Linked DNA regions of Homo sapiens. The protein of the gene in region 4 interacts with the protein of the main gene of each other region in a pairwise test. Each region holds a gene or a part of one and is shown on either strand. Other genes may lie near its edges. The genes, in order: SH2B2, RNMT, DOK3 and PLEKHA3.

The links.
Region 1: the proteins of PLEKHA3 (region 4) and SH2B2 interact in binary tests that used the Homo sapiens proteins (3 or more experiments, as listed by UniProt).
Region 2: the proteins of PLEKHA3 (region 4) and RNMT interact in binary tests that used the Homo sapiens proteins (3 or more experiments, as listed by UniProt).
Region 3: the proteins of PLEKHA3 (region 4) and DOK3 interact in binary tests that used the Homo sapiens proteins (3 or more experiments, as listed by UniProt).

Annotation. Positions count from the first base shown.
Region 1 is NC_000007.14:102,282,626-102,289,958, forward strand, and holds the start of SH2B2 (SH2B adapter protein 2), read left to right. Parts: upstream 1-4,242; 5' UTR 4,243-4,469; intron 4,470-5,035; exon of another isoform or gene 5,036-5,852; coding exon of another isoform or gene 5,853-5,862; intron 5,863-6,840; exon of another isoform or gene 6,841-6,892; intron 6,893-7,333. UniProt on the Homo sapiens protein: Adapter protein for several members of the tyrosine kinase receptor family. Involved in multiple signaling pathways. May be involved in coupling from immunoreceptor to Ras signaling. Acts as a negative regulator of cytokine signaling in collaboration with CBL.
Region 2 is NC_000018.10:13,729,439-13,736,685, forward strand, and holds part of RNMT (mRNA cap guanine-N(7) methyltransferase), read left to right. Parts: intron 1-1,188; 5' UTR 1,189-1,317; intron 1,318-2,037; 5' UTR 2,038-2,079; coding exon 2,080-2,496; intron 2,497-5,025; coding exon 5,026-5,161; intron 5,162-7,247. UniProt on the Homo sapiens protein: Catalytic subunit of the mRNA-capping methyltransferase RNMT:RAMAC complex that methylates the N7 position of the added guanosine to the 5'-cap structure of mRNAs. Binds RNA containing 5'-terminal GpppC.
Region 3 is NC_000005.10:177,506,690-177,514,653, reverse strand, and holds the start of DOK3 (docking protein 3), read left to right. Parts: upstream 1-4,827; 5' UTR 4,828-4,896; intron 4,897-4,996; 5' UTR 4,997-5,113; coding exon 5,114-5,179; intron 5,180-6,111; coding exon 6,112-6,417; intron 6,418-7,964. Other genes in the region: probable ATP-dependent RNA helicase DDX41, read left to right, coding at 807-969, 1,170-1,301, 1,572-1,643, 1,778-1,874, 2,009-2,158, 2,261-2,332, 2,448-2,558, 2,727-2,863. UniProt on the Homo sapiens protein: DOK proteins are enzymatically inert adaptor or scaffolding proteins. They provide a docking platform for the assembly of multimolecular signaling complexes. DOK3 is a negative regulator of JNK signaling in B-cells through interaction with INPP5D/SHIP1.
Region 4 is NC_000002.12:178,497,301-178,504,547, forward strand, and holds part of PLEKHA3 (pleckstrin homology domain-containing family A member 3), read left to right. Parts: intron 1-1,910; coding exon 1,911-1,954; intron 1,955-3,760; coding exon 3,761-3,876; intron 3,877-6,459; coding exon 6,460-6,587; 3' UTR 6,588-7,247. UniProt on the Homo sapiens protein: Plays a role in regulation of vesicular cargo transport from the trans-Golgi network (TGN) to the plasma membrane.

The DNA.
Region 1 (7,333 bases), on a different chromosome or scaffold from region 4:
TTCCAGGCCAGGCCCAGGGGCCATGGGTGGGCTGCAGGGGTGGCCTTGAGGCGAACGGGCAGCTCACCGTGTCTCCACCTGGCCAGGTGCTCTACAAGCTGGCATGGAGCGAGAGCATGGAGAGGGACTGTGCCACCTTCTGCGCCAAGAAGTGAGGACCCCCACTTGGGCCCCCCCTCAGCCCCACAGCGAGCTCCCAGCACCCCCGCAACACCCCCGAGTTCCTGCCTCATGTCCCCCACTCCTTAGCCCTCCATCACAGCCCCCCATTCTGGCCCTCCCCCTACCCCTACTCCCGGTATCCACTACCCCCTAGCCCCACCCCATCACATGGTACACACCCCCCTTCCCCAACACACACACTCGGCCTCAGCAAAGCTTCCCGTGTCCCCCAGGTTCGCTGACCACCTGCACAAGTTCCACGAGAATGACAACGGGGCTGCGGCTGGTGACTTGTGGCAGTGATACCCCGGGGCCTCCCCCGTGACAGTGACGGCTGCGCCTCCACCCCGACTGCTCAGTGCATCTAATCACTTAGACTCCCCTGAAGAATCCCCCATGGAAACTGCCCTTATCCGCTGTCCAGCAGCTGCCAGAGGCCCCAGGTCACCTCGGGTCCCCTTGAAAGAATGTCTCGGTCACATCAGGCCCGCTAGGTCCAGAGAGCGAGCCCCCAATGCCCGGCCAGGCTAAGCCGCAGAGACCCTCTCAGCCCCCACCTCAGGTTAGGGCTCTGCCCGCAGCCTGACCTCTAGCCCTGGTGGCAGAGGTCCCTCAGCTGCGAGGCTAATTGGGTGACCACCGATTCCAGCTGCGGTTAATCCAGCTTGGGCCTGTCTGCACTGCGATCCTCTTGGGCTCTCCTAGGATCCCCCCATGCCCCGTAAGAGGTGGAAGACGCTTCCTTCCAGGACAGCAGGCTTTGAGTCCAGCACCCCCAGCCTGCCTTTGCCACCAGCCCCACCCTGCAGAGTATATGAGGCTTGACAGAGTCTGCCCCCTCCCCCACTGCACCCCAAGAGAGAGAGCCCCAGCCAGCGGAACAGTTTCTATTACCCCCTCCCTGCCCCCAGACCCATGTGATTTCTGCTTTCTTCTTTAGCAAGATATTCTGGTTTCTAGATAAGGAAGAGTCTCTAATGAGCCCCCGAGCCCCAGTCTCTTCAGACTCATGGATTGGTATGAGGGGTCTGAACGTCTCCTAGCCAATCAGAACTGGCTGTGGACCACCCTAGCACGGCCACCTCTCAGGGCCACTGGCAGGCCTTCCTGAGTTAGATTTGTAGTTGCATATTTAGCTTTGCACATTTGAAATAAACCACGGTTGCAGCCACCCTGGTGCCCTGTGCTCTGGGACGCTGGAGGGACTGGAGGCTGGTGGGGATGCCTGCGGTGCCACCCCTGGGAGCTGGGGCTGGCCTCACAGCTGGGCACACAGAACATTCCTCCCCCTCTTCTCATCTCCAGGAATTCCATGAGTACATTCAGAGCTCTGCTGAAACCCAGATCCAGTGTCCGAGTGCTTTTGAGAGGACAAGTAGCACCATCAAAAAGGGAAACCCATTCCTTTATTCAAAAACCACCCGGGGCCAGGCGCGGTGGGTCACACCTGTAATCCCAGCGCTTTGGGAGGCCGAGGCAGGTGGATCACTTGAGGTCAGGAGTTCGTGACCAGCCTGGCCAACGTGGTGAAACCCCGTCTCTACCAAAAATACAAAAATTAGCTGGGCATGGTGGCGCATGCCTGTAATCCCAGCCACTCAGGAGGGTGAGGCAGGAGAATCGTTTGAACCCGGGAGGCGGAGGTTGCAGTGAGCTGAGATCGTGCCAGTGCACTCCAGCCTGGGAAACAGAGTGAGACTCCATCTCAAAAAAAAAAAAAAAACCACCTGTCGGGCTGTGGTTGGGTGTATGACGTGTCTTGGTCCACGTCAGTTCCTGGGGAATCTCTGCTTCCCTTTCTGTGCTCCCCTTTCCCATGGGCCCCCGCCTGCCAGGGGCTGCAAAGCCCGTGCCCATCAATCTCCCTGAGCACCAGCCTCGCATGGGAACCCCCCGAGACACAGGTTCTGGGCCACCTCACCTCCAGCCCAGCCTCAGATAGAGGAGCGCATTCTCTGGGTCTGGAGTGGGTGCATTAACTCATTGTCCAGCTGTCACAAGACTGGCTGCAAACCCAGGTCCCCCACTGCAGCCCACCAGGCCAGGGTCCCCTGTGCTACCTCTGTCTCCATTTTAGTTCTGAACAGTCTAAAGCATGTGTATCCAGGGGCCTTTCTTTGGGGTCCCCGTCCCAGCACCCCTCATCTCCCCCATGAGGACTTCTTCCAAGCCCCTCAAGCCTCCTGCCCTCAGGGACCCAGGATGGACCTTTCCTCCCTGACCTTCATTCCTATCCCCAGCGAGGCGACAGCTGCTCTTGGCCAACCACGCCCCCTCCACCCCCACAGCCACTTCCACATCTCCATCAGTTCCTCCTTGTGGGTCCGAGGCGCTCTGCCGCCGGCCCCTCCTCACTTCTTCCTCCCTGGGGATGGATCCAAGCTATTGTCCTGCCCATGGCTTCCCATCTCAGGACCCTCTCTGGCCGCTATCATCCCAGCAGTGGAGTTCAGCCCACTACTCTGAACCAGGTTAGTCCACCGCGGGTCAGGCTCTCCCCTCTCCCAGGAGGGTGGAGACCACAACCAGGCCATGTATGGAGCTTCCCTTTCTCCCACTCTCGGGCACCCCCTCCTCCCCCTTCCCGGCCTCATTCATAGGTGTCCTGGTTCCCAACCAGGCGTGCAGGCCTGTGTGCAGCTCCGATCGAGGGCTGGCCCACTGCCGAAGCTTTCATTAAAGTGTCTGCTGGCCTGGTCCTGCGGAGGGAACAGAGCCGAGATGTGGGGCAGGGAAGGGGTCTGCCTGTCTTCCGTGCCCCCGTGGAGGGCAGCACCGGGGTTTTGGGCAGCAGGTGAAGGCTCTGTCCCCTCCACCTTCAACTCTGGAAGCCCCACCTTTCCATCCCTAAGAAGGGTTTGATAAAAACCCTTGTCTGTAAATTAGAGATGGGAAATGGCTCTGGGAAAAGTCAGAGGTCAGTTTGGGCCCGGGAGGGCGACAGATGGAGGCAGCTCCGGCTGGCAAGGAGACCAGGACAGAACTGCCAGAGGTGGGGGCAGGGGACAAGGAGGGAGATGAGGGGAGAAGACACCCAGGGGTCCCCCCCTGCTATCTCCAGGAGCAAGACTACTCTCTTCTCTGAGCGGCCCTTTCCACACCTCTGCCCCCACCGAAGCCCTCCCTCCCCTCTCAGACCCCTTCCAGGCCTGCTGAGCCCCCTGCACCTCTTTCAGGAAGCCTCCCAGAGCCCCCGCGCTGTGCCCTCAGCACCAGGGGTCAGGCTACAAATGCCCCGCAAAGCCCAGCGGGACTGTTTCCTCAGCCCCACTGGTCTCTGCCCTAAAGCAGGCGAGTTCTGGAGCCAGGCAGGGGTGAGGAAGGTGCCAGGGTTGTGGCCCCTCATCGCCCCTCTATGATCTCTGACACCTCTCCGGGTGGCATCAGGCCCCCATCACAGCGAAGGCTGGGTGGTGGGGGCACTGCGCTCAGGGGGGCCGTCCCGCCCTGTGGCCCGGGGGCGATTTCCCGCACCGGAGGGCTGCAGGGAGGGGGCGTGGTGGCGCCCTCGAGATTTATGAGAACCAGGCGTCGACTTCCTCCGTTGCGACATCCAGGCCTCCTCCAGGCTCCCATTGTCCCTGCTGCGGAGAGTCTGGCCACAGCGGCGGCTCCCGCGAAGCACCCGTCAGCGAGGGGCGCTTCGAGGGCGTCCGCGTCCCATACACCCGCCACGCAGGACATTCCCCCGGCCCCACGCTCCGCGCTCCCGGGGCCACCACCACCGCGGGCTCGAGGGGTGGCCTCCACGAGGAGGAGTGGGAGTCCCGCGCCTGGCCTGGGGCCGGCTCGGCGACATGGGGACCCCCGCCCAGATGGGGCGACTCGGAGCCGGCTCCTAACCCCTCTCTCCGGGCCCCAGGACCGGGCAGTCTCGGCACCGCAGCTGCGGGGAGCCAGCAAGCACCGGCCACCGGCGCCGCTCGGGCTCCGCGGATGGCCGGGGGCGGGGCCTGAGCGGCGCAAGTGGGGGCGGGAGGGGGCGGGGCCAGGACGCGCGAGGGGGGGCGGGGCCGGGGCTCGCGGCGGGGGCGGGGGCGGGGCGGGGCCGGGAGGCGCGCGCCTCGCGGGCGGAGGGGCGCGCCGCGCTGGGGCTGGGCTTGGAGCGCGCGGAGCTCGGCTGCCAGAGAGCCGCGCGGGGGACGCGCCGGGACCGCGAGGAGCGCAGGAGCCTTCGAGGCGGTGAACGAGGGAGGGAGCCCAGTCCGCCGCGGGCCATGAGCCACCGGGCCCGGGGAGCCCGGCCGCGGTCCGGGCAGCGCTCAGCCGGCGCCCCAGCCCGCTCGGCCGCAGCTGCGCGCCTGTAGGTATGGCCTCCTTATACCCAGTTCCTCGCTCCCTGGTCCTTCCCCCGGGACCCCTGTCTGTCCCCGGGGACGTGCGCTGTGTGCGCACCGCTGCCCGAAGGAGAGCGGCCGCACGCGCCTTGGTCCGCGCGTGTCGTCTTTGTGTGCGCGGGTGGGAGGGAGGAGGGCGCGCGAGGGAGGGGAGGCGCCCCCGGCTGGGATCTGCTCCCCGATCCCCATCCCGGGCGGGGCGGGGAGCCGCTGGAGGGGCCGAGCCGCCTCTGGAGCAGCTGCGCCCCCGCCCCCTGCTAGGGCCCCGGCCGGGTAGTGGGGCGAGAGCAGCCGGGTCCTTAGAGGAGGGGTCTCTGGTTGGGGGAAGGGGTGCCCAGGTCTCTTCCCTACGCTGGGAGCGCTGGGAGGGGGCGTCAACCTAGAATGAGGGTGAGGGCCACGGGATGGGATCGGGGAGGACCTCCTCCAGGCCACAGGCACGCCCTCCCTTTGGCCCAGGCCCCCCTTTCTCGACCTGCCCAGCCGGGGAGCTCCCCGGAGCCCCCGATTGCCGGGAGGATCGTGGAGGGTGCCCAAGAGGCCGGCGCCTTTAAGAAGGGGCGGGTTCGTGCCCTCCATTCAGGCCCTTGGGCCTCGGCCATTGATGAACCTGCGGGCTGCGCGGGCCGGAACCGCGCCAGCCCAGCGGGCTGAAGCCGGGCAGAGGCAGGGACGCATCCTGGCCCCCTGCAGCCCCGAAGTGGGGGCCTTCAGGGAGGGAAGTCTGCAGTGACTGGAGCCTCTCAGGAGCCACGCAAGGCAGACCGGGCAGCCCCAGGCGAGACTCTGAACACGAATAAGCCAGGATCTACGTGCACTTCGAGCTAGTGCAAGGGAGAGCCTCAGGCTAGGCTGTCAGACCTGGGTGGAGCCCTACCAATGCCCCCGAGCCAACATCACCTACCCTGTAAAATGGGATGGTGCTGCCTGCCTCCTGGCTAAGGGACCGGCAACTCCCGGCAGGAATTGCGTCCCAGAGTCAGGTCCCTGGAGCTCCTCTGGGAGGACTGGGGGCAGGGGGTGTGGTTTCCCCAAGAGGTTTTGACTGCCTCTTGAGCTGAAGCCCCCACTACTGTGTCCCACCTTGAACTCTCCCAACCTCTTCCCTCCTGGCCTCCCCACTCCACGCAGGAAGAGGTTGGGAGAGTGACCTAGAACTTTTCAGCTCCAGGAGCTTTGGGAGAGGTCTGGTGGTGGCGGTGGTGGCACTTCTTTTAGGCTAGTGTGGATCAGGGCATTTTTGGGGGTCTCAGAGACAGTTTCCCACCAGCTACTTCCTTAGAGGTCTGTCCTACCAACATACAAGAACAGCCCCACCCCGTGGCAGGCCGGCTTCTGATGCTGCTTGGTTGAATGCTTCTAGGTAATCAAGGGTTAATGCACACGCTTTTCTTTTTACCCTTGTTGTGAAAAATCTGTCTGAAGTTTCTAAATCCCTCTTCCCTACTTAGCGTGAATCTCCTAGGGAGGACTTCTATACAAATACCCAGGGGTGGGCTTCCCTTGGGGGTCTTGGAAGTGGGATCTCCACCCAAGTGATCCTGGGCCTCCCAGGGCTGAGCTTTTGGTTTCAAACTTACTTGTGCCAAGCTAAGGGCATCAGGATCGCCGTTCGTGTCATCTTTACAACAATCCTGTGGGTTTAGTGCTATTATTATCCCCACACACTTAGGGAGGGGAAGTGACTGGCCCAAAGTCCCGCAGTCAACGAGCCAGGCCTCCCAACCACTCCTCTCTGACAAGAGGCTGGCACTTCTTGCCCTGCCTACCCAGCCTGGGTTGCAAGGAATTGGGGGTTTAGGGGCTTCAGGCCTCCTGGCTGCTGTCTTCCCGGGGCTACGCTCATTCTTACTGTCCAAGTGAGGCCAGGGGACTGGTCAGAGCCCTGGGGCCTGGGGAGGTTTCTCTTCCCTGCTCACCTGGCTGGGTGCCGTTTTATGGCTATGCTCTGTCTAGGGGGATAGCAGGTGTGACCCCTCAACACGAGGTCACAGCCCACACCTGTTTGGGCAGAGCAAGGCAGGGCATCGCTGTGTGGGCGTGCAGCATCTTTTGGTTCCTCTGGGTGAAGCAGGGTTTGGGCCCCATTCTCCACATACTTCCGGGCCATCTGAGGGTAGCGCCCACCTGGGGGGTGGGGAGGACAACCAGCCAGGAGCTCACGGTTCGGTGGAAGAGACAGGCCACAGCCATGTGGTGTGGTGGAGGGGCAGGGGGCAAGGGTGGAGGTGGGAAGAGGATCAAGGGGCGTTCCCGAGGCCTCTGTGGGCTTGGGGGCCTGCCTGCTATTGGGGCAGAACAGGGGAAGTAGGCAGTGCCCAGCTGGGTGCTGAGGCTCTGTGCAGAGGACAGGCAGGAGTTGGAGGAAGAGGATGTATTTGAACTTGGATGTGGTGAGTTTGAGGTACCTGGAGATCAGCCAGGCTGGGAGTTGAGCTCAGAGAAAGGCCCAGGGAAGCTTTATTAGCACCTGTAGTCTCCAGAGTTCGGGGATGCTCAGATCTTAGGGGTGCCACCAGAGGTCTCAGGAGGCACTGGTATGAGTGTCCTGGAAAAGCCAGAAGGCAGCTGGGTGGGATGAGTTGGTGAGGGGCACTAAGGGGGTATCCTGCAGGTTTAGGGGGCTGGGCCAGGGCCCATGTGAGAGTTATGACACTGGGGGAGTGGAAGGGGCTGAGTGTCTCAGGCCAAGGCTGGAGATGGGAGGGGGGAACCTCTGCTCTGCAACCCCAGAAAGGCAGGGTGGGGTGGGAGTAACCAGGGCCAGTGCAGCTGGAACCAGCTCAGCCTGTCCTCCACCTGCAGAGCCCATCCAGGAACTGTCCAGCACTGGG
Region 2 (7,247 bases), on a different chromosome or scaffold from region 4:
ATTTCTTTATTTGAATTTAAAGCCAATTTCCATTAGGAAATCAATGGCAGAGGAGGAGAAATAGGAATTTGATAAGTTGGTATCCAGTTTTTCTAGATAATCATTTTAAGTATTTGTTCTGAAAATCACTTTTCTGATTTGTTGTTGTTGTTCTCTGATTCAGTTCTATTTGGTACTTCTTGGTATTTTGTTACCTCAAATGGTGGGTCATGAAAACTAATAACCATTGAAACCCTTACCCATTCATAGTGAGTGACTTGTTACCCATTCCTTTAAGCAACTTGATTTCTTATTCTTTTTCATTATCCAAAAGGCTTTTTATTTATTTACTTTTTTTTTTAAGCACAAACACTTCCTTCATGAAAAAGCTTTTTTTTTTTAAGTGGGGTCTCACTTTGTTGTCTAGGCTGGAGTACAGTGGCACAATCATGGCTCACTGCAGCCTGGACCTCCTGGGCTCAGGTGATCCTCCTACTTCAGCCTGCTGAGTAACTGGGACTAAGGCATGTGCCACCATGCCCAGCTATTTTTTGTAGAGACGGGATTTTGCCATGTTGCCCAACCTGGTCTCGAACTCCAGAGCTCAAGCAGTCTGCCCACCTCGTTCCCCCAAAGTGGTGGGATTACAGGTGTGAGCCACTGTGCCCAGCGAAAGCTTAACATTTTAATAGTGGTATATAAGCTATAAACATCTTGAAAACATGATTTACATTGAGCTTCTCCATAGTAGGAGGTCACTAAATTTGTTGAATGGCTTAATAAATGAACCACCATAATTCTTGCCCAATAGATAGTTCAGTTATTTCTCTCGCTTTCCCATCTTAATGTAGGTCTAAAAACATATTTGAAAGAGACTTAATGGTCATCAAACTGCAGGCTGAGTCCTGAAACTTGTCTAAAGCCATTTCTACTCTCTTCACTTTCTACCTAATTGGAACACCCATTATGAAATACGATTTCAGAATTCTTGCTGTAGAATCCCAAACTTTTTCTGTTCTTGATGCCCTTAGTGTCCATAGGCCAAAAGAAATATAACAGTTCCATTTATTAAGTAGTTTACCCCAAAGAATTTAAAAGTATTTATGGTCTAACAACTTTATGTCTGTTTAAAAAATTAACACACATAAATTGGGGGGAAAGGTAATGTTTCTGTTTTATTCTTGATTAATCACAATCCCTTACTAACAGGATGTGTGAACCTATTGGGTACTGTACAACTTCAAGCCTCGAAATCAGATAGGCACCACCAACCTCATTTCCTGTTTCACCTTGATTTTCTGTGATACCAAAATCTCAGCTTCACAAAGTCATTGAAAGGTATGTAGTGTAATCTATTCAGCTGGAACTGTGCTGTACTTAAAGCTGGTAGTTTCTGTGATATCTTCCACATTAGGTTCTGTGGTGCCTGTTTGTTATGGTGCCAACCATGCAGTTTGGGAACCAGGGTTATAGAGTAAGGATCAGAACCAAAATGGAACTAGTGCATGTGTATCGCCACTTCATTTGTCAGCTTTAATGCCAACAGTGACTTTTATGAATAAGATTATAGAATTTTGGGGGGATTATAATTAGTACTGCCATATTCAGAAATTCATACATAGTATCAGTTAACATTTTTTAATATGCTCTCTACAATGAGATTTTTTTAAACTCCTAGTTGATCAAATTCTAGTTAAAATTATTTTAGGCCAGGCGCAGTGGCTTACGCCTGTAATCCCAGCACTTTGGGAGGCCAAGGCAGGCGGATCACCTGGGGTCAGGAGTTAGAGACCAGCCTGCCCAACGTGGGGAAATCGCGTCTCAGCTAAACATACAAAAAATTAGCCAGGCGTGGTGGCAGGTGCCTGTAATCCCAGCTACTGGGGAGGCTGAGGCGGGAGAATCACTTGAACCCCAGAGGCGGAGCTTGCAGTGAGCCGAGATCATGCCATTGCACTCCAGCCTGGGCGACAAGAGTGAAACTCCGTCTCAAAAAAAAAAAAAATTGTTTTAAAGTCTTAGTGTTTACAAGTAATACCAATTTTTTTCCTATTCTAGTGTTGGTTCATGAAGTTTTACCATCAATTCAAGTAATCATAAATGGCAAATTCTGCAAAAGCAGAAGAATATGAAAAGATGTCTCTTGAACAGGCAAAAGCGTCAGTGAATTCTGAAACAGAGTCTTCATTCAATATTAATGAAAACACAACAGCTTCTGGGACTGGGCTTTCTGAAAAGACTTCTGTCTGTAGGCAAGTAGACATAGCAAGAAAGAGAAAAGAGTTTGAAGATGATCTTGTAAAGGAAAGTTCTAGTTGTGGGAAAGACACTCCATCCAAGAAGAGAAAACTTGATCCTGAAATTGTCCCAGAGGAAAAAGATTGTGGTGATGCTGAAGGCAATTCAAAGAAAAGAAAAAGAGAAACTGAGGATGTTCCAAAAGATAAATCTTCTACTGGAGATGGCACTCAAAATAAGAGAAAAATAGCACTTGAGGATGTTCCTGAAAAGCAGAAAGTATGTTCAGTGTATTTTCATTTATTCATAATAGAATATGTAAGTTTGAAATGTGGAACACCCGTGGATTCATACTGGTTTTTACATAATAGCTTAAGAATGTTCTATTTTTAATAGATATGGTCCTAAGACAAAGTAGGCTTTTAACTCTTATGATTTCTGTTAAGGTGAAACATCTCCTGCTAATGAGATAGATTTTTTAGTTTTTGTTTGTTTTTATTTTCTAATGAGATAATGTTTATCTTATTTTAGAATATTTAACTAGAAACTTTTTTTTCCGAGACAGAGTCTTGCACTGTCGCCCAGGCTGGAGTGTGATGGTGTAATCAAAGCTCACTGCAGCCACAACCTCCTGGGCATAAGCAGTCCTCCGGCGTTTTTAAAAAGACTAGAGTATGAGATCCAAATGATTTACCTATTTTTCTTTTTTATTAGGTGTTCAGCTCTAGTTTTTTTGTCAGAGGTTATCACTTAAAGGGATAACTTTTAAAATTATACCTAGCTTTACATCCCTTTATTAATGTAATTCCTTAAACAGTTTTCAGCTTCTTATTAATGTATTTTACATACTGTTTTAGTTAAGTGAATGCAAATGCCTAATATTTAGCAAAGATATTATAGGGCAAGTTGTTTTCATCTGGAAGTACCACATTAGAAAGGAATTTGAGGCAGAATCTGGAGTTAGAGGAAAAGATTACTTTAATGAGTAAATAAAATTCTGCCATTGGCCCTTATGAGGAAAGTGACTGATAGTGAGGCTTTTGTCATCAATGGAATGTGAATTCTTGTAACAGAGGGGAGCCCCCCCTTTTTTTTTTTTTTTTTTTTGGAGACAGAGTCTCACTCTGTCTCCTAGGCTAGAGTGCAGTGGTGTAAACTCGGCTCACTGCAACCTCCACCTCCCGGGACCTCCACCTCCCGGGTTCAAGCGATTCTCCTGCCTCAGCCTCCCGAGTAGCTGGGACTACAGGTGCCCACCACCATGCCTGGCTAATTTTTGTGTTTTTTAGTACAGATGGGATTTCACCATATTGGCCAGGCTGGTCTTGAATTCCTGACCTTGTGATCTGCCCACCTCAGCCTCCCAAAGTGCTGGGATTACAGGCATGAGCCACTGCGCCTGGCTGGGAGCTTGTATTTTAAACATAGTTTTCAAACTTTTACTAGCCCCAGAACCCCTTTTTCAACTGAAAATCTTACACTTAAACCTGTTACGTAAAATAGGTCAAGGATTTGTTTGAAAGGCCTTTCAGCACATCAGTGAGATTCAGCACTTTGGCTGAAAAGGGAGGTAGGAGGATCCGAAGCCCTTTACCTATCATGGCATTTTTACAGGATTTCTAGGGCCTCAGGAAGCACAAATTGAAAACTGTTGGGTTACATGTAACATATATAATAGCATTATTATAATAGAAATCACTAACGCTGCACATAGCCTACTGAATTCTAATCTCTCTTTTTTTTTGAGAGTCTCGCTCTGTTGCCCATGCTGGAGTGCGGTGGCCCGATCTCGGCTCACTGCAACCTCCACCTCCTGGGTTCAAGCGATTCTCCTGCCTCAGCCTCCTGAGTAGCTGGAATTACAGGTGTGCACCACCATGCCCAGCTAATTTTTGTATTTTTAGTAGAGATAGGGTTTCACCATGTTGGCCAGGCTGGTCTCAAACTCCTGACTTCAAGTGATCCTCCCACCTGGGCCTCCCACAGTGCTGGGATTATAGGTATGAGCCACCTCACCCAGGCCTAATCTCTTTATATACATTATCTTATTTAATTTTCACAACAGCTTTATAATAATAATGTAATTATAGCTTATTCCTAATTTATTCCTTTGTAGAAACACCAAACATTGACTGTCATTTATTGAACTGAATAAATCAGAACTCTGGAAGAGTACTGGGTTTATTAAGACATTGACACTAAAATTAATGCAGATGAAATATCACAATGAAAATTTTAAACCTAGAGATGTTTTTCAAAATAAGGTGATATGGTTTGGGTGTGTCCCTACCCAGATCTCATCTTGAATTATAGCTCTCATAATTCCCACATGTGTGGGAGGGACCTGATGTGAGATAATTGAATCATGGGCGCAGTTCCCCATACTTTTCTCATGGTAGTGAATAAGTCTCACGAGATCTGATGGTTTTATAAGGGGTTTCCCCTTTTACTTGGCTCTCATTGTCTCTTGCCTGCCGCCATGTAAGACCTGCCTTTCACCTTCCACCATGATTGTGAGGCCTCCCCCGCCACGAGGAACTGTGAGTCCATTGAACCTCTTTTTGTTTATAAATTACCCAGTCTCCGGTACGTCTTTAGCAGCAACATTAAAATGGACTGATACACAGGGACACAGAAAACAAATCTTAGGTCTAATGATAATTAGTGAGACTTCTGTGGTTAATTGCCATTGTTTAGTGAAGTTTACCAATTCTAATAGCATTTTATCCATTCACAGGTCAAATGTTCTGAGGCTTATTTTTACCATGTTCTGATCCTTGATTTTTTTCTATTCTCTTTTATTTTCAGAATCTGGAAGAAGGACACAGCTCAACAGTGGCTGCCCATTACAATGAACTTCAGGAAGTTGGTTTGGAGAAGCGTAGTCAAAGTCGTATTTTTTACCTAAGAAACTTTAATAATTGGATGAAAAGTGTTCTCATTGGTATGATCCAACACCAAGCTACTGAGTCTTTAATTCCTATTCATTTAATTATCAAACCTTGACTTTATAAAGCTAGAGCCAAGACTAGGTCTTGAAGACAAATTCTTCTAATATTTACTTTTGGTTGACTGTGTAAGATTTTAATGAGTGTTTAATTATTATGTTAATCAGGTTTTCAGAAGGCAATATTTTTTTTAATGCACAGAATTAAGGTTACCTAGTACTATTAAGTAATGATTCTATTTTACTCTAATAGTTTTGGAGCAACTGCATATTGTTGGTTAAACATTCAGGTTTCATTAAGTCAAGAAATAGGCAGTGTCTTGATTTGTTTAGGCCTTCAATTAGTTGATAAAGATCATGTGTATTACATTGAGGATAGATAAAAACATTCAACTTTTTTGAGCCAACATTTTATCTATGGAAACTCACCTTTGAAATTAAAATGAAAGTGAACAGAGAAAATATGATTCAGAATACAATTCTTGTCGGCACCGTAAGATAGGGTAAAAAAAAGAATATAATTATTGCTCTGTATATTTAGTGCATTAAGTAGACTCTTAGATAAATTTAGAGAACTTTAAAAAGTGGTTTGTTTTAAAATTTTTCATAATAAAGATTTTTTTAAAGCCAGTCAAAGAAGAAGTGAGAATGCTTTCTTAATTATGCTAGAAAGAATAAAGTGCTAATTATGGGTACTTCCTACTAGTTTTGATGATAATTTACTAATTTTCAAAGATAAATTACCTAATCTGATAAGTATTAGCAGTAGGAACTAACTAGGCTTACTTTGAACACATTTTAACATTTTGTATATCACTTGTTTTTAACATTCATGTTCTGTTACAAAAATATTTATTTGACTCTGCCATGTGTCAGCTTAGGCTAAATGAGTGTTCACTTTTTTTTTTTTTTTTTAAGATTAACGTAATGGCATTTTCAGTCTCTACTCACAAGGTTCTCTCTCTACCCCAGTCCTAATTTCTTTTCAGCCTTTCTCTTCCTTCATTACCCTCAATGATGCAGATAACTTATTGGATTTTTTATGAATACTTATTTATTCATGTATTTTTTTATTGAATAACTTTTTCGAGTCCATATTTTCCACATTGTTACATGTATTATTTCTATAATCAGAAAAGAGGTATTTTTTTTTAAAGGACTGAAGTCAGAGTTGGCAAAATTGTCTCTTGGCATATACAGGGTATTCTTTCCTTTTTCAGCTGTTCTAGCAGCTCTCTTGATGTGTGCTTTGCACCTGTGTTTAACATCCTAATACAATCAGTGTGATCTGTGCCAAGCTTTCTCTCTGGCTGTTTCCTTTCTCAACACTCATTCTTTGTCACTCATTTTCTCTTTTTTCTTGGTGCTTGTAGCTTGGTAAGTAAACAGTTGAGTATAGTTCTTGAATGTGATAAAGGCTTTTTTGAAATTGTTTCTTGATGATTTCCTCTCTCGTTAGTCTTACTGTATATAAATGCAGAGATTTTATAATTGTTTTTCGCTCTTTCAGTATTTTTATGCTATTAAGATTCATGGCAGAAAGTTAAATATTATGGAACATTTGTGCTTCTGTTGAAGTTACTTTAAGTTCCTGCAGAAGGTGAAAGTACTTGTACAGGATATTTTTAGCCATCAAAATAATACACACCTGAAAGTGTCCAGCTCAGTGATAAAGACAAGGAGAATGTATCTAGGATTCAGTATTGTATCAAGTTTTAGAACTGTTGAATACTTAACTTGCCTGAGAATATTAATATGCTTTTAATCGACGTTTGAACAATTTGCCTATTGATGTTTGGTTGCCTACTGATTTTATCTGTTGGCTGTTAATGTCATTTAGTAGACTGGGGTCTACCAAATACTGATGATGCTAAAACTAAAAGACATAGTGCTTTTTTTTTTTCTAGTTTTTATATTTCTCTTGGTGGTAAGCCTGACATCTTTGATAATCAGGCTCTTTTATCATTCCATAACAACTTTGATTTACTTACGTGTCTACTGTTAAACACCTAGCTATGGAAAGAGAAAGCTACAAAAAAAAATATGAATAATTAGTTTTTCTAATCCTTACTTAGCTTTTTCT
Region 3 (7,964 bases), on a different chromosome or scaffold from region 4:
GTGGAAAAGCTAAAGGACCCTTTACCTTAGCCACTCCACAGATCTTCACAGAGGGCTGCTGTGAGTGCGACCCTCAAGGAGCTCCCAGTCTAATGGGGAGGTTAGTTGGGGGAGGACAGAGGGATGTGGCCAGGTACTGTGGGAGCACGGCAGATGGAATGGCCCACCTTGCTGGGGACATCTGGGAGGTGGGAGCTCAGAGAAGGCTTTTCCGGGAAGGTGACATTTGAATTGGGAAGAGGGGCAGTCCAGGCTGAAAGCACAGAGGCGGACGGCCCAGGAAGGTCAGGGTCATTCAGTGGTCAGTCAAGGAGGTTGAGGCACTGGGGTAGGGCTGGATCCCAGCGGCACCTGTGTCCTTTCAGTGCTGTGCAGTCCTCTGCAGACCACCAGAGGCCCTGGACCAGGCCCTCTGTTCACAGATGGGCCAGACCCCATCCCGGAGGCCTTCCTCCACGGACTTCTGAGTATTAGGGAGATGGTGAGCACAGAAAAGGTGAAGCCAGTGGGCCAGGAAAGCGAGCCCAGAGTAAAGCCTCTGGAGCTTGATGACAGCGCTTCTGGGTGAGAGGCTGACCCAGGAGAAGGGGGAAGGCGCGCCAGGCCGAGCGGTGGTGAAGATGGCTGCAGTGCCTTGGGAAAGAGCTGTGTGCTATACATAGGGCAGGTGGTGGGAATGATGAGAAGGGGACAGACAAAGAAATAGGAAGGAGGACAGAGAGCAGAGCAGATGCAGGGTGCCTGCTTGCCTCTAGATAGGTGATAGGCCAGTGGCCCCAACCTCAGGGTCTCTCCTTGGTCCCCAGCGGTGTACACATGATGGTGGCCACCCCGGGGCGCCTCATGGATTTGCTGCAGAAGAAGATGGTCAGCCTAGACATCTGTCGCTACCTGGCCCTGGACGAGGCTGACCGCATGATCGACATGGGCTTCGAGGGTGACATCCGTACCATCTTCTCCTACTTCAAGGTGCCGCCCCCGCCCGGCCAGGGCACCCTGCACCGCCCCCCACTGCACGCCACATCAGACTGCAGGGACCCCATGCCCCTGGCCACCCCAACCCACTGCTCATACTTTGTGGGCTGTGTCTCAGTTGCTCAGCTTCCCCAGACCCCATGCCCCTCAGCCCAGCCCTGTGTGCCCTTGGTCGCAGCCCCCCTCTTCCTCAGGGCCAGCGACAGACCCTGCTCTTCAGTGCCACCATGCCGAAGAAGATTCAGAACTTTGCTAAGAGTGCCCTTGTAAAGCCTGTGACCATCAATGTGGGGCGCGCTGGGGCTGCCAGCCTGGATGTCATCCAGGTGGGCAGGTGCTCCTGATGGGCGGTCTCTCACCTGTGGGGGCTGGATCTGACAAGTCTCCCTGAAGCTGATTGGAGCCGGGGGTCCACCTTGTGGGAACCGGGGGTTTCATTCAAAGCCCCTGACGCTTAACCAGGGCCATTTTTAGGGCACCAGCCCTTGGCGGCCAGAGGCTTCTGGTCACCTCCTGGTCCAGATGACGGGCCATGGCAGGGCTGTGGCGGGTAAGCCTAATCTCAAGATCACCTGACCTGATCTTTGTGGTGGCAGGAGGTAGAATATGTGAAGGAGGAGGCCAAGATGGTGTACCTGCTCGAGTGCCTGCAGAAGACACCCCCGCCTGTGAGTGCAGCCAGGCCAGGCCGGGGCCAGAGTCCCCAGGACCAGGGAGGGCTTTGGAGGGGACAGAGTGCCAGGGGAGGTGCGGTGGGTGCCCAGGCAGTTAGCCCCTGACTGGAGTTGGTCTTTCCGGACAGGTACTCATCTTTGCAGAGAAGAAGGCAGACGTGGACGCCATCCACGAGTACCTGCTGCTCAAGGGGGTTGAGGCCGTAGCCATCCATGGGGGCAAAGGTCAGGGTGGTGCAAGCACTGGCTTGGACCCTGCTGCAGTAGCAGTGCTTTACCTAATGCCTTCCCCTGCCTGGTTGGCCTGCCACTCCCCTGTCCCATGGTGGCTCTGACAGTGTCTGCCTGACCCTCCCCAGACCAGGAGGAACGGACTAAGGCCATCGAGGCATTCCGGGAGGGCAAGAAGGATGTCCTAGTAGCCACAGACGTTGCCTCCAAGGGCCTGGACTTCCCTGCCATCCAGCACGTCATCAATTATGACATGCCAGAGGAGATTGAGAACTATGGTAAGAGCCTGGGGCCCAAGGGCATGGGTTAGGCCGGAAAAGGGCCAAGCCAGGCCCCTAGTGTCCAGCGATGGGCCAGAGACTCTGTCCTTCTCTCTGCAGTACACCGGATTGGCCGCACCGGGCGCTCGGGAAACACAGGCATCGCCACTACCTTCATCAACAAAGCGTGTGGTGAGTCTGTTACCAGCGCCACCTTAGCTGTTCCCTGGGTCCCCTGCCTGTGGCCACCCAGGTTCTGGCCACAGAGCCCAGGATGGGCCCTGATGCTTCCCCACTCCTCCCCCAGATGAGTCAGTGCTGATGGACCTCAAAGCGCTGCTGCTAGAAGCCAAGCAGAAGGTGCCGCCCGTGCTGCAGGTGCTGCATTGCGGGGATGAGTCCATGCTGGACATTGGAGGTGACTGCAGAGCGGGATCCCCGAGTCCCCAGCCGGCAGGTGGCAAGGAGGGGTGCTGGAAGTCAGAAACGTGAAACCGGTGGACCGAGGGTGCCTAACGGGGGGCCCGAAGTCCAGGGCATGGATCCTGGTCCTTGACTTGGCTGACCCCTGTCCCCATTCCCCCAGGAGAGCGCGGCTGTGCCTTCTGCGGGGGCCTGGGTCATCGGATCACTGACTGCCCCAAACTCGAGGCTATGCAGACCAAGCAGGTCAGCAACATCGGTCGCAAGGACTACCTGGCCCACAGCTCCATGGACTTCTGAGCCGACAGTCTTCCCTTCTCTCCAAGAGGCCTCAGTCCCCAAGACTGCCACCAGTCTACACATACAGCAGCCCCCTGGACAGAATCAGCATTTCAGCTCAGCTGGCCTGGGATGGGCCAGGCTGGTCCTGGCTGCCTGTTCCCTGTGCTCTTCAGAATTACTGTTTTTGTTTCCTTTTACCCCAGCTGCCATTAAAGCCCAAACCTCTAGCCCAGCCCTGGCCCTGCCTCTGTGTTTCACCTCATCCGCCCCCTGGTTCCTGGACAGACGTCACCTCTGACCTCTGGAGCCCCTCTGAGGCAAGGCCCCAGCATCTCCCACTAGCACTGCCAACACCTGGCCTGCTGGTACTTGGCTGTGGAAGGAGCCACCGAGCTGGTGCCCGCCTCTGGGGACTCTGGGTCTCTCCACTGGGTTGTCTGAATTTATGACTCAAGGAGGGACCACATTGGCGGGCCAAGGAGAAGTGCTTGGATTCTCTGGTCTCCCTGGCCAGCTGTCATAGCTCTCAGGCCCACTCTTCCTGTCAGGGCTGTGATGTTTCAGGGACTTCTCCTGAAGCCCCTTGGGAGGCTGCTTCTTGCCTCAGGACCCCCACCCACTGCCTGCCTGTGCCAGCCACCTGGAGGGAGCCCTCCATTCCGTTGACTGAGGAGGCAGCAGATGTCATAGAACTGCCATTTAGGCCACAAGCTCTCCCTAAGCCTGCTCTGTGCCCAGCTCTGCTGAGCTGTGAGGACCTAGATGGGCCAGGGAGATGGCTGCCTGGGAAGCCGTCAGGCGAGGGGAGAGAAAGACGCACACGCAGAAACGTGGACGGCAGTCACAAGACCGCTAGCAGATGAGGCAGGATCTCAGCATCTGGTGAGAGGTAGGCAGGGACGGCACAGGCGGCCACACTTCCTCTGAGCCAGGCACTTTGCATGTATGGCCACATGCTCATTCCAGTGAGACAGCGGTTGCTCAAGCCATATTTGTCACTTGATATGTGGCATTGGGCAAGTTACTTAATTTTTCTGAGCACCGATTTCCTCACTGTTGAAATGGCGATGAGAACGCAAAGGATGTGGCGTCTGAGGTGGACGGAGCTTAGGGCTGCTTGGGCCACAGTGGGCACAGAGCTGGGTGCCAGGAGGCCTTCAGGACATATTTCCTGGCCAAGTGCATTCCCAAATGGCATTCCTTATCCTCTTCCATGTTCTCTCCCAGAGGTGGTGCTGAATGACCTGAGGCTGTTCCAGAATAAAGGTATACACACAGCCCCGCTATTGGCATCTTGCTAGGCAAGCCAACAAAAGGCGCCCCCAGCAGGAAGCAAAGCTTTAAATGAACATGTGACCTCTCCGGGGCCCCCTGGGACCTGCCACCCACACTCACGTGGTTGGGGCCATTCAGGGCTGTGGGTCCCATGTGGACTGGATGCCCAGCGTGAGTGTATACCGTGAGGGCCTTTGAGCTCTCGGACAGCGTGGAGTGGTCAAGGGAGGCCTCCAGGAGGAAGAGGTGGCCAACCGCCCCAGGCAGCACAGTGGTGAGGGGGCCCTGGAGGGGCTGGCCTGGGGGAGATGCAGGCCAGAACACACAGGTCCCTGAGTGTTGGGCTGAGGAGCCTGGGCTGCACCCCAGGAAGGGGAGAGACAGGTTGGTCTTGGGTTGTGGAGAGTGCTGCATGGAGGCCCAGTGGGGCAGTGGCCCCTGGGGGGATGCCAAAGGCTGGTGATGTTCAGTGGCTCGTGAGGTGGAGAGGAGCAGGTGAACACGAGAGAGATTTCAGGGAGAAAGAAAAGCAGCAAGATGGGGTGAGGCGCTCAAACCAGGACGCCGAGTGGGAAAGCCAGGAGTTGGCTAGAGAAGGGTCCTGGGTGGAGGCAGGGCCAGGGAGTGTCAGGCCCAGGGTGCGCAGCTGCCCGGGGCGGGACGGGGGAGGGGCGGGAACTCATGACTCGGGGAGCCAGACTGCGATCAGACGCGCGTGCCCAGCTGAACCAGGTGCGTGAGAAGGCTGCCTTCAGGTGGCCGGGGGCTCCCTCCAGGTAGGTGTGGGCACCTTGGGCAGCCAGAACCCCAGGGAGGAAATACATGCTGCCCCCAGCCCCTGAGCTGAAGACAGGCTCCCCTCCCCCCGGCCTGCAGCTGTCTCTAGACGGAGGGACGGGAAGTGGCCAGAAGGGGAAGTGTGAGGAGTTCCCGTCCAGCCTGTCATCAGTCTCCCCAGGTCTTGAAGCGGCGGCCCTGCTCCTGGCCGTGACCATGGACCCTCTGGAGACCCCTATCAAGGATGGCATCCTCTACCAGCAGCATGTCAAGTTTGGCAAGGTGGGGACCCCTGGCTGCCAGGCAGCTGCCAAGGACCAACAGTGGGTGGAGAATGCAGCCTCTGCCCCTGCCTCGGACAGCCCAGGCAGACCTGGGAGACTTGGGAAGGGAGTCAGGGTGGAGGATCCCACCCAGGTATGGGGAGTGGAATGGAGTGCGGGTGTCAGCCTGAGACGGCAGGGGCTGAGCAGGCTCTGCCAGACCCTGCCTCCGGGAGAGATGGGAAATACAGGAGTGGGAGAGGGTCGAAGGCTCAAACCTCCCAGCAGGGAAGAGCTTCACAGCCTCTGACCCATGAAATAGTGCCACCGAGGGCCCTAAATAGGGTGAGGGGCTGAGCTGGAGGAGGCCTCAAGGGTGGAGCCCCTCCCTGCAGCGGCACTGTCCTGGGAGCAAGGAGGCAGGGGGTCACCTCTCCTCGGCAGCAGCCCCACACCCCCGCAGCTCAGCTGCAGCTGCTGCCCAGGCAGATAAACCGTCAGTTTCCTTTGCTCGAAGCTATTTGCATGTTTCCTTCCTTAACAGCTTGAGGCAGAGGCCTCCCTCCCACCCCAGCTCTTGGCCTGTGGCCCAAGTGCCCCTTTTTGGGGGTGAGAGGGAACCAATATAATGGCAGTGTCTGGTGGTCTGCCCGGCCACTGGATGCTTTACAAACATGACCCAGTAGCAGTCCCAGCTCGAGTTCTCATGGCCTTTTGAGAGACGACATTGATGCTTGTGGAGGTCACAGTTAGGAAAGAGCGGGCTGGGATTTGAACCCAGGGCTGACCAATCCCAAGCATAGCCAAGGCCTCCTTACCTGGCTCCCTGAGAAACTGGGGAGCAGAGGCCCGCTCCTGGCTGGGAGCGTTTGCCGAGCAGCTTGTGCTGAGCCAAGTGGCACGGACAATCTGCCACCCAAGGGTCTTCACCCTCCCGCTCCCCTCCCGCAGAAGTGCTGGCGGAAGGTGTGGGCTCTGCTGTATGCAGGAGGCCCATCAGGCGTGGCACGGCTGGAGAGCTGGGAGGTCCGGGATGGTGGCCTGGGAGCAGCGGGTGACAGGTCGGCAGGGCCTGGCCGGCGAGGGGAGCGACGGGTCATCCGCCTGGCTGACTGTGTGTCCGTGCTGCCGGCTGACGGCGAGAGCTGCCCCCGGGACACCGGTGCCTTCCTGCTCACCACCACCGAGCGAAGCCATCTACTGGCTGCTCAGCACCGCCAGGCCTGGATGGGCCCCATCTGCCAGCTGGCCTTCCCGGTGAGTGCGGCGAGCAGGGGGGCGATTGGGCTGGGGCACCTGCCCCCGACTTGTCCACCTCCACGCTCACATCCCATCACCCAGCAAGCTCCACCGAGCACCTACAAGCCTGGGAAAAGTAAATCTATAATGACTCTCAGAGGGCCGTGCGTGCCATGGAGAAAATGGACCGCCAGGGGAGCAGGAGGAAGTGAGGGAGCGACGGGCAGGGTGGCCAGGGAAGGCCTCTCAGAGGAGGGCCCTGAATGACAGGAACCCACTGGGCAAAGGTCTGAGGACAGGGGCAGCCTGGGGAGTTGTGAACAGAGGGAGTCCCGTGGGCAGAGGCCCCGAGGCCGGACAGTGTGGGGTGTTTAAGGGCAGAAAGAAGGCGACGTGGCTGGAAGGAAAGGAGTGCAGGAGGAAGCCAACTCACAGAGCTTAGGAGAGCGGCTGAAATGCCCTAGGCCATGTGTGTGGTTTTGTTCTGAGTGAGAGGCGAAGGCTTTGGAGGGTTTAAGCCGGACATGTTTGTAAAGCCCCAAAAGGTCTGTGATGGGTCAAAAGGAAGTGAGCCTGGGGGTTCTTCAAAGAGGTAAACAGAGTTACCATGTGGCCCACAGGTCCACTCCTAGGTGTGTGCCCAAGAGAACTTGAACAGGTGTTCAAACAAAACATGTACATGTGAGGCAGGAGGATCGCATGAGCCCCAGAGGTCGAGGCTGCAGTGAGCTGTAATCGTGCCACTTCACTCCAGCCCGGGAGACAGAGCAAGACCCTATCTTAAAAAAAAACCCACATGGACATGAACGTCCATAGCAGCACTACTCACAGCCACCAGAAGGTGGAAACAGCCTACATGGCCATCAGCTGACAAATGGATAAGCAAAACGTGGTCCGTCCGCAAGATGGAATACTACTCAGCCATAAAAACAAACAAACGCCTGGCACAGTAGCTCTTGCCTGTAATCTTAGCACTTTGGGAGGCTGAGGTAGGAGGATTGCTTGAGCCTAGGAATTCAAGATCAGCCTGGGCAACATAGTGAGACCCTGTCTCAAAAAAAAAAAAGAAAAGAAGAAAGAAAGAAATGTACAGACAAGGTAACTCCATTGGGATAGAAATCAGATGAGTGTTGGCAGGAGCTGGAGGAAGGGAGAAGTGGGGAGTGGCTGCTCATGGGTACAGGGCTTCCATGTGGGATGATGGAAAAGTTCTGGAACTAGACAGTGGCAACAGTGCACAGCCTTGTGAGTATACTAAAAAGCACTGGTGGCCGGGTGCGGTGGCTCAGGCCTATAATCCCAGCACTTTGGGAGGCCGAGGCGGGCGGATCACCTGAGGTCAGAAGTTCGAGACCAGCCTCAACATGGAGAAACCCCGTCTCTACTAAAAATACAGAAGTAGCTGGGCATGGTGGTGCATGCCTGTAATGCCAGCTACTCGGGAGGCTGAGGCAGGCAGAATTGCTTGAACCTGGGAGGCAGAGGTTGCGGTGAGCCGAGATCATGCCATTGCACTCCAGCCTGGGCAACGAGAGCAAAACTCCGTCTCAAAAAAAAAAAAAAAA
Region 4 (7,247 bases):
GCTCACTGCAAGCTCCGCCTCCTGGGTTCATGCCATTCTCCTGCCTCAGCCTCCTGAGCAGATGGGACCACAGGCGCCTGCCACCATGCCCAGCTAATTTTTTGTATTTTTAGTAGAGACGGGGTTTCACCATGTTAGCCAGGATGGTCTCGATCTCCTGACCTCGTGATCTGCCCGCCTTAGTCTTCCAAAGTGTTGGGATTACAGGCGTGAGACACTGCGCCTGGCCCATTTTATGTATTTTTTAATACCATCTTACAGGACTGTGGTGTGGTGTTGAGTAAAACATAGTTTGACAATGTTGCTTTTTAGGACAATTGTAGATATGCTATAAACTGTTAATTAACAAGTATGTGTGAACAAAGAAACCAGTGTTTTGAGATGGATGTGTAGTGCTGTGTTCCTGAGGTTGATAGACAAAGGGTACACTTTTTTTTTTTAAGCTGTACTTTTTAGAGTCAAATGCAGTAAAACACCTCAGAGTTGCCTTGCTTCTGCATTGAACTTCTCAGGAAATCCCTTATGTTACAAATGCTCTGTAGTCCAGAGAAGTCAATGCGTATTTTACATATAAGAAACTAAAATAATTATTAGTTCTAGAGACAAATAGCATGGAAAGTAAGGTCAGACAATCTTCATGTTTTTTTTTTAAATAACATTGTTTATTTATTTATATGAAAAACTTACATTTATTTATATGAAAAATAAAGCTGAAAATTTGAGTATTCCAAAACAATTTAATCTGATCTTTGTAAGTGCTTTAATCTGATCTTTATAAGCACTTTATATAGTTAATCTCAATGAATTCATCTTAGAGTAAACTTGCATTTAACTTTATTTCAAGTTGTCATAAAAGTTCAGACAACCATCACTGGACCTACAGATTGAGTGATTATTATAGTGGGGATGTCCTTGGGTTAGTAAGCCTAAAGGAAGTAATTTCTGTTAAAGGAGATGTTAGTGGCCATTTGCATCTTAATGTCAATCTTATCAGATGTTCCCAGACTACAAACTGGGTGGGTCATATCTCTTAGCATTTCAACTGGTATTTCTCAGAGCAACTAGTGGCTCATGTTCCAAATATAGAAGGCATTTGCATAACATCAATGTTAGACCTGGGCTTGTTAGACTCTTGGGCTCATGTATACAAAAGCAACCACCCTAAACCTTTAGTATAATCTTTGTTTTTCTGCTACCATGTTAAACTTTGAAATAATCAGTTTTACTTGGCTGCCTCCCTTTATATTTTGATGGAGTAGTTGGATCTTCCAAATTATGTTTAGTATTTATCATATTTTTTAAATGTTCTGCTTAATTAGGTATTCTTTATTTTTTTAAATATATGTTTTGGAAATCCACTGAGACTTAGGGTTCTTCTTCTGAGTTCTTTAAAGTCTTGAATTATTAATGCTGTTTTCCATGAAAACCACACTTTAGAACATTTGTATATCAGCTACCTAAATAATTAATGATAAAGAGAAGCTTTGCTGCCAGACTCTACTACTGTCCTTTAAAAAAGAGATATTTATTAGAATATTTTGTGGCTTGCTAGATACTCCTTTTTTATCACATTTATATCTTATTTATAGTTATATACCCTGTTTTTTATATTTGTATACACACACATATATATGTATTATGTATAAAATTTGGTTTTCACTTTTGAAAAAAGAATCCAGCATGTTTTTGGTGTGTGTTGAAAAAGATTCCAATTAATGGTTATTAGGGAGAAAGCTTGATGTTGTACTAATTATGTTGCTTGAGTCTGTGAAAGATTAAATTTTTTTTTGCCAGTTATCTTTTTCTCTGAGTAAATTTATGTTTATTATGATAATAGTAAATTAGAGCTGCATGATTCTACTTGACATATGGATTATGCTAATTTTTTTTTTTTTTTCCAAAATTTCTAGATGAAGCGTTCTGTCAGCCACCCTGGTTCTTGCAGTTCAGAGAGGTAAAAGAACCTTTTCTTCTGACTAAGTTCTCTCAAATTATATCCATCTAGGGAAGTTCTTTGGGCCTTTAACAAGTGGTGTGGAATGTAAACTCTGTATGGGTTAGGTCTGGTTCAAAACCAGCATTTTATCTCTCAGTATTTATCTCCTAGTATTTAGTATAAGGGCCTGGCCTCAGTAGGTAGTCAGTAAAGAAAAAAATGAATGAATTAACCAGCAAGGTAAGCACGTTGCCAGCCATTTTACCTTTTTTAGATGTTTGAAATGCAGTCATATATTGAAGAATGACTTTTCCATCAATGATAGACTGCATATGTGACAGTGGCCTCATAAGATTATAATACCATATTTTTACTGTACTTTTTCCATGTTTAGGTATGTTTAGATACACAAATACCATTGTTACAGTCACCCACAACATTCAGTACAGTAACATGCAGTAGAAGTTTGTAGCCTAAGAACAATAGGCTATACCACATAGCCTACATGTGTAGTAGGCTATACTAGCTAGTTTTGTGTAAGCACGCTCTGTGATGTTTGCACAGTGACAGAATCACCTAGCGATGGATTTCTCAGAATGCATCCTTGTCATTAAGAGACGCATGACTGTATATCAAGTGATGGTTAGACAGAAGTACATTTTTGATGTGTTGAGACTCCACAGCTAGGGCTCATTTTACCTCAGCTGTTTATAGCATCATCTATTCATGCTGAGCTGTTGTTTCATTAAGAGAGAAAGATCTTGCTGAAGAGAGAAAACCACTTGATATTTTAAAGTACATATTCATATCAATACGTTTAAAAATTTTACCTTCTGGATAGATCTTACCAAAATGCTAAGTTGTTAAACTATTATTTTGTTAGGTAATAGTCCTTTAAGTTGCTATGGTTGTCTTATTTAGTTCTTTGGAAAGTGATTTAATTATAGTGACATTGGCATTTATTTCTCTATATTTGGACTGTTAAATGCTGTTTTGTCATGTTTTAATTTTTTCCCCTGATGATTGTATAATCTTTGATTAAACTGTCAAATACTCAGAGGAATCCAATGATGTATATATCCAACCTTGTCAGGGAATCAAGAGTCCCACCAACTGAATTTTCCAGAAAAATGGAAGCTTAATCAATTTTTGACCAACTTTTATTTTTATGAAAGAAATTTTTCTATCCTTTCTACCTCATAAAATAATAATTTTAAAATCTTATTTGTTTCCTGATGAATCAAGGTTGTCATTAAGTACAGTAAAGTTGGGCTGTTACAAAAATAGTAGCTGAGATGCTGTTAGGTGGTGGTGATTTGCTTCTCTGTTTAAATTTTTCAGACAGATTTTTAAAAGAGTTTTTCTAGGCCCCTTTTTGCCATCTTTATCTTCTCTTGCTGTTGTCAGTGAGTCTACCTCTAGCTCTATGAACTCCTTGCCCATCTCTTTCAGTCTGCTGGTTTTGATCAGATATGGATTGACTTAAAATACATGCATTCATGAAACCTATGACTTCTAGTTTTCAAACATTTGTAAACCGACTGATATGTCTGCTCTCTGGAGTCTCCCCTACAGAAGTCACTACTTCTTCATTGTACCCCTCTTCCTTTTAGTTCAGCTCAGAAGCCATATTCTCCAGGTTACCAGCTGTCTTCTAAATGGGTTCACTTGTTTTTGACTTCTGAGTAGAATGTTGCTAACACGGGACGTTGAGCATAAAAATAATTCTTTTTTCACTTAAAGAGAAGTCATTTAAAATTCCAGTTGAGTGTGTTTTTGTTTATGTAAGGCCTTACAATTTAATGCTTTTTACTTAATTTGCAGGAGTAGCCACTCTATAAAAGAACCAGTATCTACACTTCACCGACTCTCCCAGCGACGCCGAAGAACCTACTCAGATACAGATTCTTGTAGTGATATTCCTCTTGAAGACCCAGATAGTAAGTGACATAGATTCTGTCTCTTTCTTTGGCATATTCAGCAAAATTACTGTGGGGCTCTGTAATTTCTGGAAATGAAGTATACTGACTGAACATTGTACTTTGTTTCTTTGATTCCTTAATTCAGAGGTAAGCAAACAGCGCTCAATCAATGAAAGCTCATATATCCCCTTACAAACAGGTTTGTTACTAACTAAGGAGTGCTGAGGATTGCTTTGTAAATATCGTATCTCAGATATATATTTATAGAATATCATGATCTTTTACCACCACTAGGACTTAAAAAACATTTTAGAAGAAGGCATGAATTGTTAGCAGGATTCTAGGGGAAAATAAAGGCAAGTTCCAAGTTCATATAAAAGTCAGCATTGTTACTTTACTAAAATACCTAGAAATGGCTAAGGAAAAGAATTTTGTCTGGTAGTCACAGTGAATTATAGTAGCATTCATTCCTCTACCTTTTTCTTCCTTATTAAAGAGGCAGCATACTGTGATTGAATGTTTTTAGGAAAGGTTTTGTGATTTATGTTAAAATTTTTAAATTTTTCTCTTCAGAGAAGAAGCTTTGAAAGTGTGTCAGAATATCTAGTAAGATAGTAGTGACCATGATTTGCAGTGAACACAAATATAGTCTTATTATTACATCTCCATTAATAGACTTATACTCTCCAAGTCTCTACTATTTCTCAGGAAGCATGTGGGATAGAAACTATGTACAATTTCCAATTAAGGAACAGGTCGTGTTCCAATAGTTAGTTCATTTGTAAGTCAGTTGTTTGGAAAACAGATTTTATTTTTCTTGTGGAAATGACATGATAAGTGGTGGTTAGCTCTTTGGATAGCTAACCATTCTTTGGAAGAGCCCAGTGAATTCATAGTATGGCTGAAATGGGACAAAACAATGGTGTATTTCTAGCATTTGAGTGTATTGAAAACACTGATTAAGCTGGAGTTGTTTTATGTAACCAGAAAGTTAAACAGGTTTAGTTCATACATATGGCAATTTTAAAAAGGATTGCTGGTCATTTTTGGATTTTTAGGAGTTGATAGAATCTTTTTTTTTTTTTAATGCCCACTTTTTTTTTAAACTGAATTAATCATCTATTTATTAATATATGGCACTATTCTATGCTCATTAACATTTTGAATTTAAATTGAGATGTGGGTGGAGAAATGAAGGAAAGAAACCGGGAAGGGGAAGGGAGAAAGAAACTTTCTTGGGCCAATCAAGCAAGACCTGGAAGAGAAGAGGAGGAGAGGAGGAGGGTTAAAGAGGTTGAGTATGTGAAAAAAGTTATCTGAGGCAGGTAAGATAGACTCTGATTCTCTTTATTCTTTATGCCTTTTACACATGACTCTTAATCCAGAGTTCATGAAGGAGTTCTGTATGCTACCTTGTAGTTTTAAGTGCGACATCTTTTTTTTTTTTTAAGGGGATCATTTGTGATTACTAAAATAATTTTTTTAAAGCCATCCATTTTTCTTTAGAATTCTTTTCTTCTAGTTACTCTAGTCCTGAATATTTGAAAACAATTTTCAAAAGATCTAGGTGTACATGCTCTATTATATTTAGCATCCCCCAGTTTAACTGTTATGGACTGTAACAAAACTAGTCTCACACACACACACACGCACGCACACACACACACGCGCATACATATAGTTCACTTCTCTAGAACATCTTTAAATTAGCAAGTATAGACTAGGTCAGAAATTTTATCCTTAGATTTTTTCCTGTTTATACTAGTTTAGTGTTTCAATTAGCTGACAAAGCAAAGATTGAATTAGTGCTCTTTCCAGAAAGTATATATTTTGCAATTGGCAGTCTTAGTTGAAAGTTGTTACTCAAAAATATTCTTCTTGTGAGATGCAACTGCTTCTATTTTCTTTAACAAGCTTTTTCAAAAAGTATGAAAGTAATAAATGATGATGGTAAACTCAAACTATATATATAAAGGTACAACTGCCTTAGAACAGGACTATGCCAGTGTAGTCAGCTGTGTTAACATGGAGTTGCAGTGATAGTTCTGTGAGCTGCATTACAAATGGAGAAATGGGATCTTTCAGTATGAGGTACCTTGTCAGCTTTGCTCAGAAAGTCTTAGAATGAAAAGAGGAATACCTGAATTTAGTCCTCGTTCTGTTACCAATTGTGTGATCTTGGGTAAGGCATGTATCCTTTTATGGGTCTTGGTTTCTTTGCCTAGGAACAAGGAGGATATTAACAGCATTAAAATAGGCTGAAAAAGCAATAGTTAATTAATAAAGATTAAATTCAATTCAGCAAATATTTATTGACTACCTATTATGTGCCAACCATGATTCTAGCAGTGAACAAAACAAAAATCTCTACTTCAGGCAATTTCATCATTTATCTTATGAATTCTGATGTTTCTCCTTGTGGCTGTTGATACTCTAGTCTAAAAGTTAAGTTTTCCTGCATGAAACAAACAAGGAAATACAAAATTAGCCAGAAGCTAAAGGAATTTCATGTCCCTGAACAGGAAATTTAAAATGTTCTTTCACAGAGGACTGGAGTTAATATTGACAGGATGTTTAACGTTTTTATCAATGTCTTCATAGGACCTGTTCACTGTTCAAAAAATACACTTAATGGAGATTTGGCATCAGCAACCATTCCTGAAGAAAGCAGACTTATGGCCAAAAAACAATCTGAATCAGAAGATACTCTTCCATCCTTCTCTTCCTGAAGAAACTGAAGTGTCCAACTTCCTCTAAGTATTGCTATGCAAAAGCTGCTGTAATTAAACTATTGTTATAGGGAGTAGTTTTTTCCCTTAGGACTCTGCACTTTATAGAATGTTGTAAAACAGACAAACAAGAAAACAAACCACATACTTTTGAAGTGTATTTTATCTTTATATAGTTTGTTTGCAAGAGTATTTTCCTAATAACTTCACAGTATGAATGTGCATCTTTTTTTTTTGAACAAATGATGGTGTAACATTTTGACATCCATAAGGACAAATGTAGATATTTTTCTTAAAAACTCTGAGGGGACTGACAGCATGGTCAGGGTGTATTGTAGCTTATAAACATGAAATCTTATAAGGTTTCAGTTTGACAGAAGTGTGATATATGTAACTTGTGCCATGGACCAAATGGTCACTTTACCACAGCTAAAAATGAGTTACGATAGCAGCTTGATGGTGATTGTATTGTATTCCTTTAATCAAAAAGGAAACACAATATTCTAAGTATCTTTAGCCCAAATACCATGACATATTGAGCATCTTTAAATAACCAGACTGTATTGTCCTTCATATGTGAAGTTGACACTACTGATTTGTCAATACCAAATTTTGGGTTAAAGTGTTTAATTTTTATGTATTTATTTTCTTGTTGCCTCA